Homo sapiens: one gene and its partners. The protein of the gene in region 1 interacts with the protein of each later gene in a pairwise test. Each region holds a gene or a part of one and is shown in the gene's direction. Other genes may lie near its edges.

Region 1 (3,758 bases):
GTCAATAAAAGAGACAGAAATTATGAAAAACCCAATGGAGGTTCTAGAGTTTAAAAATACAAGAACTGAAATGAAAAACCACTAGAGGAACTCAAGAACAGAGGTGAGCTGACAAAAAACAAAATAAACAGACATAAAGAGAGCAAAAAAGATATTGCCCAGTCCGAAGAACAGGAAAAAAAGAAAATGAAGAAAACTGTACAGAACCTCAAAATCCTTTGAGATACCATCACATGTATAATGGGAGTCCCATAAAAATGGGGAGTACCAGAAAAAAAATTAAAGAAATAATGGCTCCCAAATTCCCCTAATTTCATGGAAAACATTCAATACATCCAAAAAGCTCAAGGATCTTCAAGTAAAATAAACACAAAGAGATCCTCCTAGACACCTCCATGTCAAACTGATAAAAAAGAAAATCTTGAAAGCAGCAAAAAAAAATAAAAACAAGACTCTTCATATATAAGGGAACCACAATAATATAAACAGCTGGGTTCTCATCCAAAACAATGGAGGCCTGAAGGTAGTGGAATGGGATATTAAAGTGCAGGGGGAAAAACAGTCAGGCAGGAATTCTTTATCCTTTAAAACTATCCCTCAAAAATGAAGGTGAAATACAGACATACACAGATGAATAATGTGTTGCTAGCAGAAATTCCTCATGAGAAACACTAAAGGAAGTTCTTTAGACTGAAGTGACATCAGATGAAACTCAAATGCACATGAATAAATAAAAAAAGTGCCAGTAAAAGTAATTATGTAGGTGGTTATGAAAATCAGTATAAATACATCTTTTGTGTTTTCTTCTGTTAACTGATTTAAAAGACAGTAGCATTAATTGCATTGGGCTCACCCAGGTAATCCAGGATGATTACCTTAATTTAAGGTCGTGTTATTAGTAACATTAATTCCATCTGTCATAACTACTCAGCTCCACCTTTTAGCATGAAAGTATTCATAGACAATACATAAAGGAATGGATATGGCTTGTTCCAGCAAAACTTTATTTGCAAAAACGGGAGTGGGCTAGATTTGGTCCATGTATCATAGCTTGCCAACCCTTCTTCAATAGACAGTTTCTCAATTTTTCTCTTAAATTTTAAAAGATAAGATTATAAAAGCAGTAATTATAACACCATATTGGTAGTTACATAATATATATAGATAGAATAGATGACAATAATAGCACAAAGAAAAGGAAAGGGAATGAGTTATATGGGAATAAAGTTGCTGTATTTTACTGGAATTGAATTAGCATTCATCTGAAGTAGACTGTGATAAATTAGGGTGCTTATTTAGTGATTAAGCAAGCTAAAAATATAATAGCTTAAAAACAAGGGAATTAACATACACAAAGTATGTTTAATTTTTAAAAAATAAAGAAAGAACACAATGGCCAGGCTTGGTTGGTTAACACCCATATTCCCAGCATTTTGGGAGGCCAACTCGGGAAGACCATATGAGCCCAGGAGTTCAAGACCAGCCTGGGCAACATGACGAGACCTCATCTCTACAAAAAAGTAAAAATAAAAACACTAGCTATGCATAGTGCCACATGCCTGTGGTCCCAGCTACTTAGGCAGCTGAGGTGGGAGGATCACTTGGAACCCAGGAGGTCAAGGCTGCAATGAGCCATATTCAGGCCACCGTACCCCAGTGTGGGTGACAGAGTAAAACCCTATCTCACAAAAAAAAAAAAAAAGGAAAGGAAAAGAAAACACATGAGACGTGTATAAAACAAATAATAAAATGTCAGATATAAATCTATTCATTGTAATAATAACATTAAAATGACAGAGATATTTTAAAGTACCTACTGGAATGACTGAATTTCAAACTATTGACAATGCCAACTGATAGCAAAGATTGTAGATAAAAGAAATATCTCTCAAACTCCTAGTTGAAATATAAGTTATTGCAACAATTTTTAAAACCTTTTGGGCATTACCTACTAAAAATTAAAATGTGCATACCCTATGATCAGTAATTTAAGTCTTTGGTATATAACCAACAGAAATGTTTGCGCTTATGCATTAAGATAAACTTCCAGGAATATATAGAGAGCAGTATTATTCATAGTAGTCCCAAAGTGGAAACAACACAGGTGGGTGAGTGATGAATAAGTTGAGGTGTATTACTTCATTCAAATTTGACATGGTGATTAAAAGCAACTATACCTGCACTTAACATCATGGATGGATCTTACAAATAAAATGTTGAGTATAAAAACTCAAAAGAATGCATACTTGTAAAAAAATCCATTCATATGAAGTTTGAAACCAGGTAAAACTAAAGCTAACCTATAGTGTTTAGGGATGAAGCTTAGTTCATGAAACTAGAAAAAAAATTGACCTTATCTAAAAGTCAAAATGACCATTACCTTGAAGGGAAGGAATAGGTAATGGTTGAGAAATGTCATGAGAGGCTAGGGTGCTGGCATCTATTAAGATTTATGTTCAAGAAGACTATGGTTATTTTTATTATAAAAGTTTGAAGGTACACCAAAAGATACAAGTGATCCAACAGAAATTAAGAAAGTAGGTTGAAGGCTGGGCATGGTGGCTCACACCTGTAATCATAACACTTTGGGAGTCTGAAGCAGGAGGATCACTTGAGGCCAGGAGTTCAAGATCAGCTTGGTCAACATGGTGAAACCCCGTCTCTACTAAAAATACAAAAAAATTAGCCAGGCATGGTGGCACAGGCCTGTAATCCTAACTACTCGGGTGGCTGGGGCATGAGAATCTCTTGAGTCTGAACCTGAAAGAGAGGTGGTTGCAGTGAGCCGAGATCGCACCACTGCACTCCAGCCTGGGCGACATGACCTTGAAAACAGAACAAGACCTTGAAAAAAAAAAAAAACCCAAGGAAGGAAGGAATGTAGGAAGGAAAAAGAGAGAGAGAGAAAGAAAGAAGAAAGGGAAGAAAGGGAGGAAGGGAGGAAGGAAAGAAAGAAAGGAAGGAAGGAAGGAGAAAGAAAAAGAGAAAGAAAGAAAGAAAAAGGAAAGAAAGAAAGAGAAAGAAAGAAGAAAGGGAGGAAGGGAGGAAGGGAAGAAAGAAAGAAAGAGAAAGAGAAAGAAAGGAAGAAAGAAATAAGGTTGAAATAGGAATGGGACAGAAATAGGATACTTTAAGATTTCACTCTATAAATATCAGTATTACCTGTATTTTTTAAGAAAAAGATCTATTTATTAGTTGTATAATATTAAGAAACATGATATGATTTGTAAGAGGTTACTTTTTTTCCAGTTTCGAAGACAAAATGATCTTACATCTGTTACTGAGGAAGCTGAGAGCACTCCTTAAAAACCCTAGAAATATGAGAATTTTGCTGTTGCTGATGCCTGGTGTGGGTCCTAATGATATCTCTGTATAACAAAGCAGTTACGAAGCCTACAGATTTTGTGCAAAATAAAATACAAACAAGGTGAATTTTTCTCCTCATTCAAAAATGTCTCTGCTTATATTTTTCTAGGCTGCAAGGAAAGTTTTTCCCTATTTAAATATGAGATTATTACAGGATGAATGTGTTATCTAGGTACGCTGAATAGCTGTCAACTCTCCATAATAAAGCTTTTGTAAGAGACTGTAAAAAAGATTCATTATTATCTCTAGAGTGAAGGCTATAAAGACTTGGGCCATGATGTCGTATAATTCACAGGAAAACTTTAAATACTTATGTCCATACAAGCAGAAAGCACATTTTACAGTCTGAGTTCTTCTACTTTAACTAGCTTCTATCAAAGTATGAATCAAAA
Region 2 (3,368 bases), on another chromosome or scaffold:
CATTTACTGTTCTTTAAGTGGAAGTGGATCCATCATCCATCGCAAACGTCTTTATCCTTGGTTTTTTCACAGTGAGTGGGCTGAGGAGGAGGAGGAAAGGAAGAGGTTGGTCTTGGTATCCAAGGGGTGGTAAAGGCAGAAGAAAATCTGTGTGTAAGTGGAACTGCGCAGTTCAAACCCGTGTTGTTCAAGGGTCAAGTATATATAAAGAGCTCCCAGTAATTAATAAGCACAAGGCAGACAACCCTATAGAAAATTGGATAAAGGACAGTGAACAGACTTTTGACAGCAGAAATACAGAAATGCCTAAAAAGATGACAAATGCCTAGCCTTATTAGTAATCAGGGAAATACAAATTAGAAGAGTAAGGTATTTTCATCCATTGATTGGCACAAATTACAAACAGTGGTAATAATCTGGTGTGACTAAGGGTGTATTCCTAAGATTCTATCATGCGCTGCTGGTGAAAGTGCATGCTAGCACAGACTTTGGAGGGTAATGATGGCAATAGATATTTGGTAAATTCTGTCTGCCTACCTAGCTTATAAAATATTTGTGCATGTACATAGACATGTAAATATAAGGCTATACACTGTAGCATTGTCATTAGAAAAGGGACTAACTTAAATGTCCAGGTCTTTAGAAATAGATCATATAAGATCTTATTAAAGGTCTTTACAAAATTATAGCTACATAATAATCTTAAGAAAGAATCCAGTCTATTTTGACAGCATCAATTCCAAATTCCTGGTATTTTTATTATATTATACTTTAATTTTAAAGAAAAAAGGTAGTAGTATCTGTAAAAGCTTACTGGAAATACACAAGTGTAGGTATTATGCCCACACTATGAAACATTACTCAGCTTTAAAAAGAATGGCCTAGATCTACATGTATATATGGAAAGGATTTCTGAGGCTCAGTTAAATGAAAAAAGAGCTGCAATGTATGTATGTTATAACGCCATTAGTATAACAGCAAACCCAAATGCTGTTTTACAAGTGTACATTAATAAATAAAGGCATAGAAAAACTTCTGGGAGGATGACAGCCAGTTACCAGGTTTCCTTTGGGTCGGGAAGTAAAACTGGGGGCAGGGAGACATCCTGCCTATCCTCTGTATTTGAGTTTTTACCAAGAAAAGTGTTCACGATTAATTTTATAATAAAAAAGTAAAGTATTTTAACTGTTCTTTCCAAATAAAAGTCTTTTAGAAAATGATTAAAAGCAACTAAATTAGAGGTTGTGAGAAATGATTCTTAAACAGTCCATGACTAGCAAATTTTTTATATTGGAGGATTCAAATATTTGTGTGTGATCTCAAAGACTAATAGTATTTCATAATAATATTTAATAATCTTCATTTATCTGAAACAAAAATGAATGAGACACAAATGAGGGATCAGGAGCCCTGGGGCCTGTGGCTGAGCCTCCCCAACTTACTGTTTTTTTTGTTGTTGTTGTTACGGAGTCTCGCTCTGTTGCCCAGGCTGGAGTGCAGTGGCCTGATCTCGGCTAACTGCAAGCTCCGCCTCCACGGTTCATGCCATTCTGCCATTCTCCTGCCTCAGCCTCCTGAGTAGCTGGGACTACAGGCACCTGCCACCATGCCCGGCTAATTTTTTGTATTTTTAGTAGAGATGGGATTTCACCATGTTAGCCAGGATGGTCTTGATCTCCTGACCTCGTGATCCACCCGCCTCGGCCTCTTGAAGTGCTGGGATTACAGGCATGAGCCACTGCGGCCGGCCCCCCACTTATTGTTGAATGTGTAGCAGCAGCTTCCCAAAAGCCAGCATCGTTTTTAGGTGAAAAATGGGCCTAGAAAACCAAAGCCATTGCCAGTTCTGGTGGTGACCATGCAGAGGTGGGCGTAAGGAAGCCATGGATCTGAACAAAACCTCAGTTGTTCGTATTAGAGCCAATTATCAGATTCAGTGGGATGCAAATCTATGGAGAGCGTGTGTTCAATATGAAAATTTAAAAAAATCTTGAACTTTTAGAATGTGGTCTTATCTAGTCCTTAAAAATTAGGAAATTTTTAGTGCATGTAGCAGCCAGAGTGAAAAACAGCTTTTTTTTTTTTTTTTTTTTTTTTGAGACGAAGTCTCTAACCAGGCTGGTGTGCAGTGGTGTGATCTTGGCTCACTTCAGCCTCTGCCTCCTGGGTTCAAGCAATTCTCCTGCCTCAGCCTCCTGAGTAGCTGGGACTGCAGGCGCGCGCCACCACGCCCAGCTAATTATTTTGTATTTTTAGTAGAGATGGGGTTTCACCATGTTGCCAGGCTGGTCTCGATCTCCTGACCTTGTGATCCTCTTGCCTCGGCTCCCAAAGTGCTGGGATTACAGGCGTGAGCCACCGCGTCCGGCCCAAAAACAGCTTTTTAATAGAAGTTATTATCCTTAGTGAAATTTCTCAAATATGAGGATTAGAGAGTCTTGAAAGAGTTTTCATTTGAATGTTATGAGCCAATCAAAGTTATCTGGGTTTTTCCATAATGAACCTCCCTTCTTAGATCCAGAAAAGATCTTCATGGTCCTTGGGTCTAACTCCATTTTATATAATATTTCTTTTTCTTTTTTTTTTTTTAAATTCCCAATGTTAGTTTTTCTGAAATTTTATATATTTTTGAGTTAAAAAATTTAAGTTGTAAAAGTAATATATGTTCATCTTGGAAAATACCAAAAGATATGAAGGAAAAAAAAATCACCCAGAATCTTACCACATAAAGACAACTAAGGCATTAGCATATTTCCTTTGATTTCCATGTGCTGTAATTTAAATTTGTCTCGTTTTATGCAGTTGGAACAATATTATACAAATGGTTTTGTATACTTCTCATTTGTAACATTGCTTTTTTTTTTTTTGAGATGGAGTTTCACTCTTGTTCACCCAGGCTGGAGTGCAATGGTGTGATCTTGGCTCTCTGCAACCTCCACCTCCTGGGGTTCAAGCTACTCTTCTGCCTCAGCCTCCTGAGTAGCTGGGATTACAGGCATGCACCACCATGCCCGGCTAATTTTGTATTTTTAGTAGAGGTTTTAGGTTTTAGGTTTCGTCATGTTGGCTAGGCTGGTCTCCAACTCCTGACCTCAGGTGATCTGCCTGCCTTGGCTTCCAAAAGTGCTGGGATTATAGGTATGAGCCACCGCACCCAGCCGTACCATTACTTTTATCTGTTATAACTGTATAAATATATACATTTTGGTGACCGCATGATATATATATATATTGAATGATCCTCCCACCTCAGCCTCCCCTGAGTAGCTGGGGGTACATGTACGCTCCATTACACCCTGCTTGTTTCTTAATTTCTTTCTTTTTTTTTTTTTTTGAGACAGAGTTTCACTCTTGTTGCCCAGGCTGGA
Region 3 (3,658 bases), on another chromosome or scaffold:
CCTGAGGTCAGGAGTTTGAGAGCAGCCTGGCCAACATGGTGAAACCCCATATCTACTAAAAATACAAAAATGAGCTAGGCGTGGCGGCACGTGCCTGTAGTCCCAGCTACTCAGGAGGCTGAGGCAGGAGAATCGTTTGAACCCAGGAGGTGGAGGTTGCAGTGAGCCATGATCAGGCCCTGCACTCCCGCCTGGGTGACAGAGTGAGACTACAACTCAAAAACAACAACAAAACAACAACAACAACAAAACCCCAGCTTCTTCCAGGTCTATGGCAGGGTAAGCTCAAAATGAACCTGGAACATCTTGTGCCAGAAAGCAAGAAAATGTTCAAAGAATGACATGAGTATGTCAAAGGGCATAGGAGTTGACCTACAGGGATGTTCACATTGGCCGAATTTGGACCATCTGTGCATCTAAAAGAATAATCGCATTTATGGATTATAGCACAATGAATTAGAAGATCTGTGAGTCCAGAAAATATAGACAGAGGCAAAGGAGAGAGGAATGGGAAATGGAAGTTGTTCTGTGCAGAAAAATGATAACATAAATGCAGATAAATTATAGCATTATGAAAGCAGCACATTGGAACCACAGTGATTGCTGGTAATCAATGAATATGAGGATCATCAGTGGATGCTAAATCCATCAGTTGAAATGTTATTAAGAAACAGAATATGACACTGTCTCAAAGCATCACCTTGGCAGTTATTTACTAATTGCCAAGAGGAAAATGTACCTATCCAGGGAAGAGATCTGAAGGATACTCTTAACCAAGAGATCAAACTTAGCACCACCCTTAGCATGAAAGGCCCACAATGTACACCACACCCATTAAGTATTCTCGCTAAAATGTTTGAATTCAATTGTGAGAAAATAATCAGAAAAGCCCAGAATGTGAGACATCTACAAGACAACTGTCAGGGATTCTTAAAAACAGTTTAACACCCCAAAAAACAAAAAGGCAGAAAGACTAGTGTAAATTAAAGGAAACTAAAGAGATGTAGTCTTGTACATAAACCTTTATTGGATCCTGTACAAAAAAAATTTAAAAGTTACAAAATAATAGAATGTTTTTATTCTTAGGAGGTGTATGCTGAAATATTTAGGGGTGAAATATCATAATGTCTGCAACCTAATGGCTCAGTAACAAAAACACATAATAAATACATATTTGTATATATGTACAGGTGTACATATATACTTTGCATGAATATATACACACATACACACAGAGAAAGAGAGAAAGCACAAACAAATATGGTAAAATATTCATGTAGGTGATTCTAGATAAAGGATATGTAGGGGTTTATTGTGCTATACTTTCAACTTTTTTGTAGATTTGACATTTTTTAAGGTTGGGAGGAGGGAAGTCCCTTGCCCTGAAGGATAAAGTCCAGATTTCTTAACCTGGCATTCAAGGCCAGCTCTGGCCTGGATCTACCAAGCTGTACTCACTTTTTAAGCTACTCAAGGGCTGAATTGTGCCCTATCAACCTTGTTTTCCCAGCATTAGTACCATGTCAATCTGTCTTCAGAGCCTTTCTCCTCACTCATCTGAATAAACCCCTCTTAGATTAAACCTACTTTCTCACAACTCTGGTTGCACTGATCTGCCTGTGAATAACACCCATTCTCTCTACTCAAATGAAAACACCCCCCTCTCCATCAATCCTATCGTCACTTGAATATGAATATAAATTTCAATACTATACCTGACATTTTCCTTTATATTGTTGTAAAGATATTTTAATATCTTTATAAGAGGAAAGCAGAGGTCATAGCTTATAATTCTTAGAGAACCCACTCTACCTAGAAAATAACAGGTCTTCAATAGATAGTTATGGGTTGATTGATCACATCCTTCACTGCATTTTCATAAGAGGAGATCATTATTTTGATATCAAAATTCCACAAGGAAAGAATAAATTTAGTAAATTACCTAGTTACCTCTATGTGATGCCAAACTAAACGTTATTTAAAAGCTTATTTTTAAGATCAAATAGGTTTGGATTACTTTTTTTTTTATTTCTATGTGGGCATTTAGTATTGTATAGACTGCATGAGCTTGGGTGAATAGGGGAATGTAGCTATCTGATAATTTATCCACAATATCCCCTTGTCGCATTCTATGGTACTAACCTGCTTCTATGTTTTAATTTAGACACTGCTGTCAATTATCTTTTCTTCCCTCGGAATTGCTTTTTCTGGATACTGCCTGGTCATCTCTGCCTTGGGTCTTGTCCAAGGGCCATATTGCCGCACCCTTGATGGCTGGGAGTATGCTTTTGAAGGCACTGCTGGACGGTAAGGAATAATTCCCCAAACCAAGGAGGTCGGAAAATCAGAAACACCTTGCCTCATGCTCAAGCTCACGCTCATTTTCCATGATCACTTTGGGGTTCCATGTGGCTGTTTTAGTGCAGAATTTCCCTGTTAGTTTACTAATATCCAGACCAATTTGTTCTTGCACAGATCTTTGTTTAGATTTTTTTCTTCAGTCTTTTAATGCCATTTTCATTCAATGTCTTGAGGTTGTCATGGAGCTATCCAAATGAAAGGTGTGTTTCTCCCATACCTCAGATTAAAGTTGTGTGGTTACTATGGTCTGGTCTGGTAACAGCTGGAGCTTATGGACTGGGTGGATCCAGGAACTCAGTTTTGTTTTATGGCCAGGTTGGACATGTGGTCTGTTACAAGTGTAAAAGGGCTTGAGGAGGAGAGAAACCATGGTGCTCTTGGATGGTGCCACTCAGGGCTATAGTAGGAGGGATGATAAAGAGATAGAACAAGGCAGGATGAGCAGGAAAGTACAGTCTGAGGTCCAGGAACATGATTAGGTGCAGGAGTTTGTGGAATGAGCCAGAGCTTATGCAGCTTATACTGGAGAAGGGTCTAAAGAGGTAGCCTTGCTCAGAAGGCTAGTAATTCAGTCAGGAGTCTCACAACCCAATCCCGGATCTCAGAATGCCTCACACTGGCATTGTGCTGGGCTTATTGGGTTCCCAGCACCAGATGCAGATTAGGAGGTAGCAGGGCCCAGAAAGAAATACAGAAGAGGTCCAGAATTCTAATGGAGTAAAATGAGGGAATGTCTGTACCATTCACTGGGGGAAGTTAAATTTTCTTCTCAACTCTCCATGATTAGCTTTATTGTTCAAGGCCCATGTCCATCTGAGGTCTTACATGTGCATCTAGGCCTACATGGCAGAGCTGCTTCTGTGACTGTAGCTGCCTTCATTCTGAAGATTTTTACATGGTGCCATATACCATGACCTTTCTTAGCAAACATGACTCTCCCTCAGGTCTCTCCTACTTGCATATCCATTTATAGGCTCTCTGCAAGAAGAAAAATATGGCTCTTTTTGCCCAACCCCACAGGCAGTCAGACCTTATGGTTGTCTTCCCTTGTTCCCTAAAAATCTCTGTTATTCTGCTCTTTTTCAATGTGCACTGATTTCATATTGTTCAAACCACATGTTTTACAATCAATTTGTACAGTTAACACAATTATCACAGTGGTCCTGAGGTGGTGTACATCCTCAACTTATGAAGATAACAGGATTAAGAGATTAGAGTAAAAACAGGCATAAGAAATTATAAAAGTATTATTTGGGAACTGATAAATGTCCATGAAATCTTCACAATTCATGTTTCT

The links.
Region 2: the proteins of MS4A13 (region 1) and POMK interact in binary tests that used the Homo sapiens proteins (3 or more experiments, as listed by UniProt).
Region 3: the proteins of MS4A13 (region 1) and TM4SF18 interact in binary tests that used the Homo sapiens proteins (3 or more experiments, as listed by UniProt).

What each region holds. Positions count from the first base shown.
Region 1 is NC_000011.10:60,539,270-60,543,027, forward strand, and holds the end of MS4A13 (membrane-spanning 4-domains subfamily A member 13), read left to right. Parts: intron 1-3,249; coding exon 3,250-3,306; 3' UTR 3,307-3,452; downstream 3,453-3,758. UniProt on the Homo sapiens protein: May be involved in signal transduction as a component of a multimeric receptor complex.
Region 2 is NC_000008.11:43,117,361-43,120,728, forward strand, and holds part of POMK (protein O-mannose kinase), read left to right. Parts: intron 1-3,368. UniProt on the Homo sapiens protein: Protein O-mannose kinase that specifically mediates phosphorylation at the 6-position of an O-mannose of the trisaccharide (N-acetylgalactosamine (GalNAc)-beta-1,3-N-acetylglucosamine (GlcNAc)-beta-1,4-mannose) to generate phosphorylated O-mannosyl trisaccharide (N-acetylgalactosamine-beta-1,3-N-acetylglucosamine-beta-1,4-(phosphate-6-)mannose).
Region 3 is NC_000003.12:149,323,529-149,327,186, reverse strand, and holds part of TM4SF18 (transmembrane 4 L6 family member 18), read left to right. Parts: intron 1-2,164; coding exon 2,165-2,307; intron 2,308-3,658.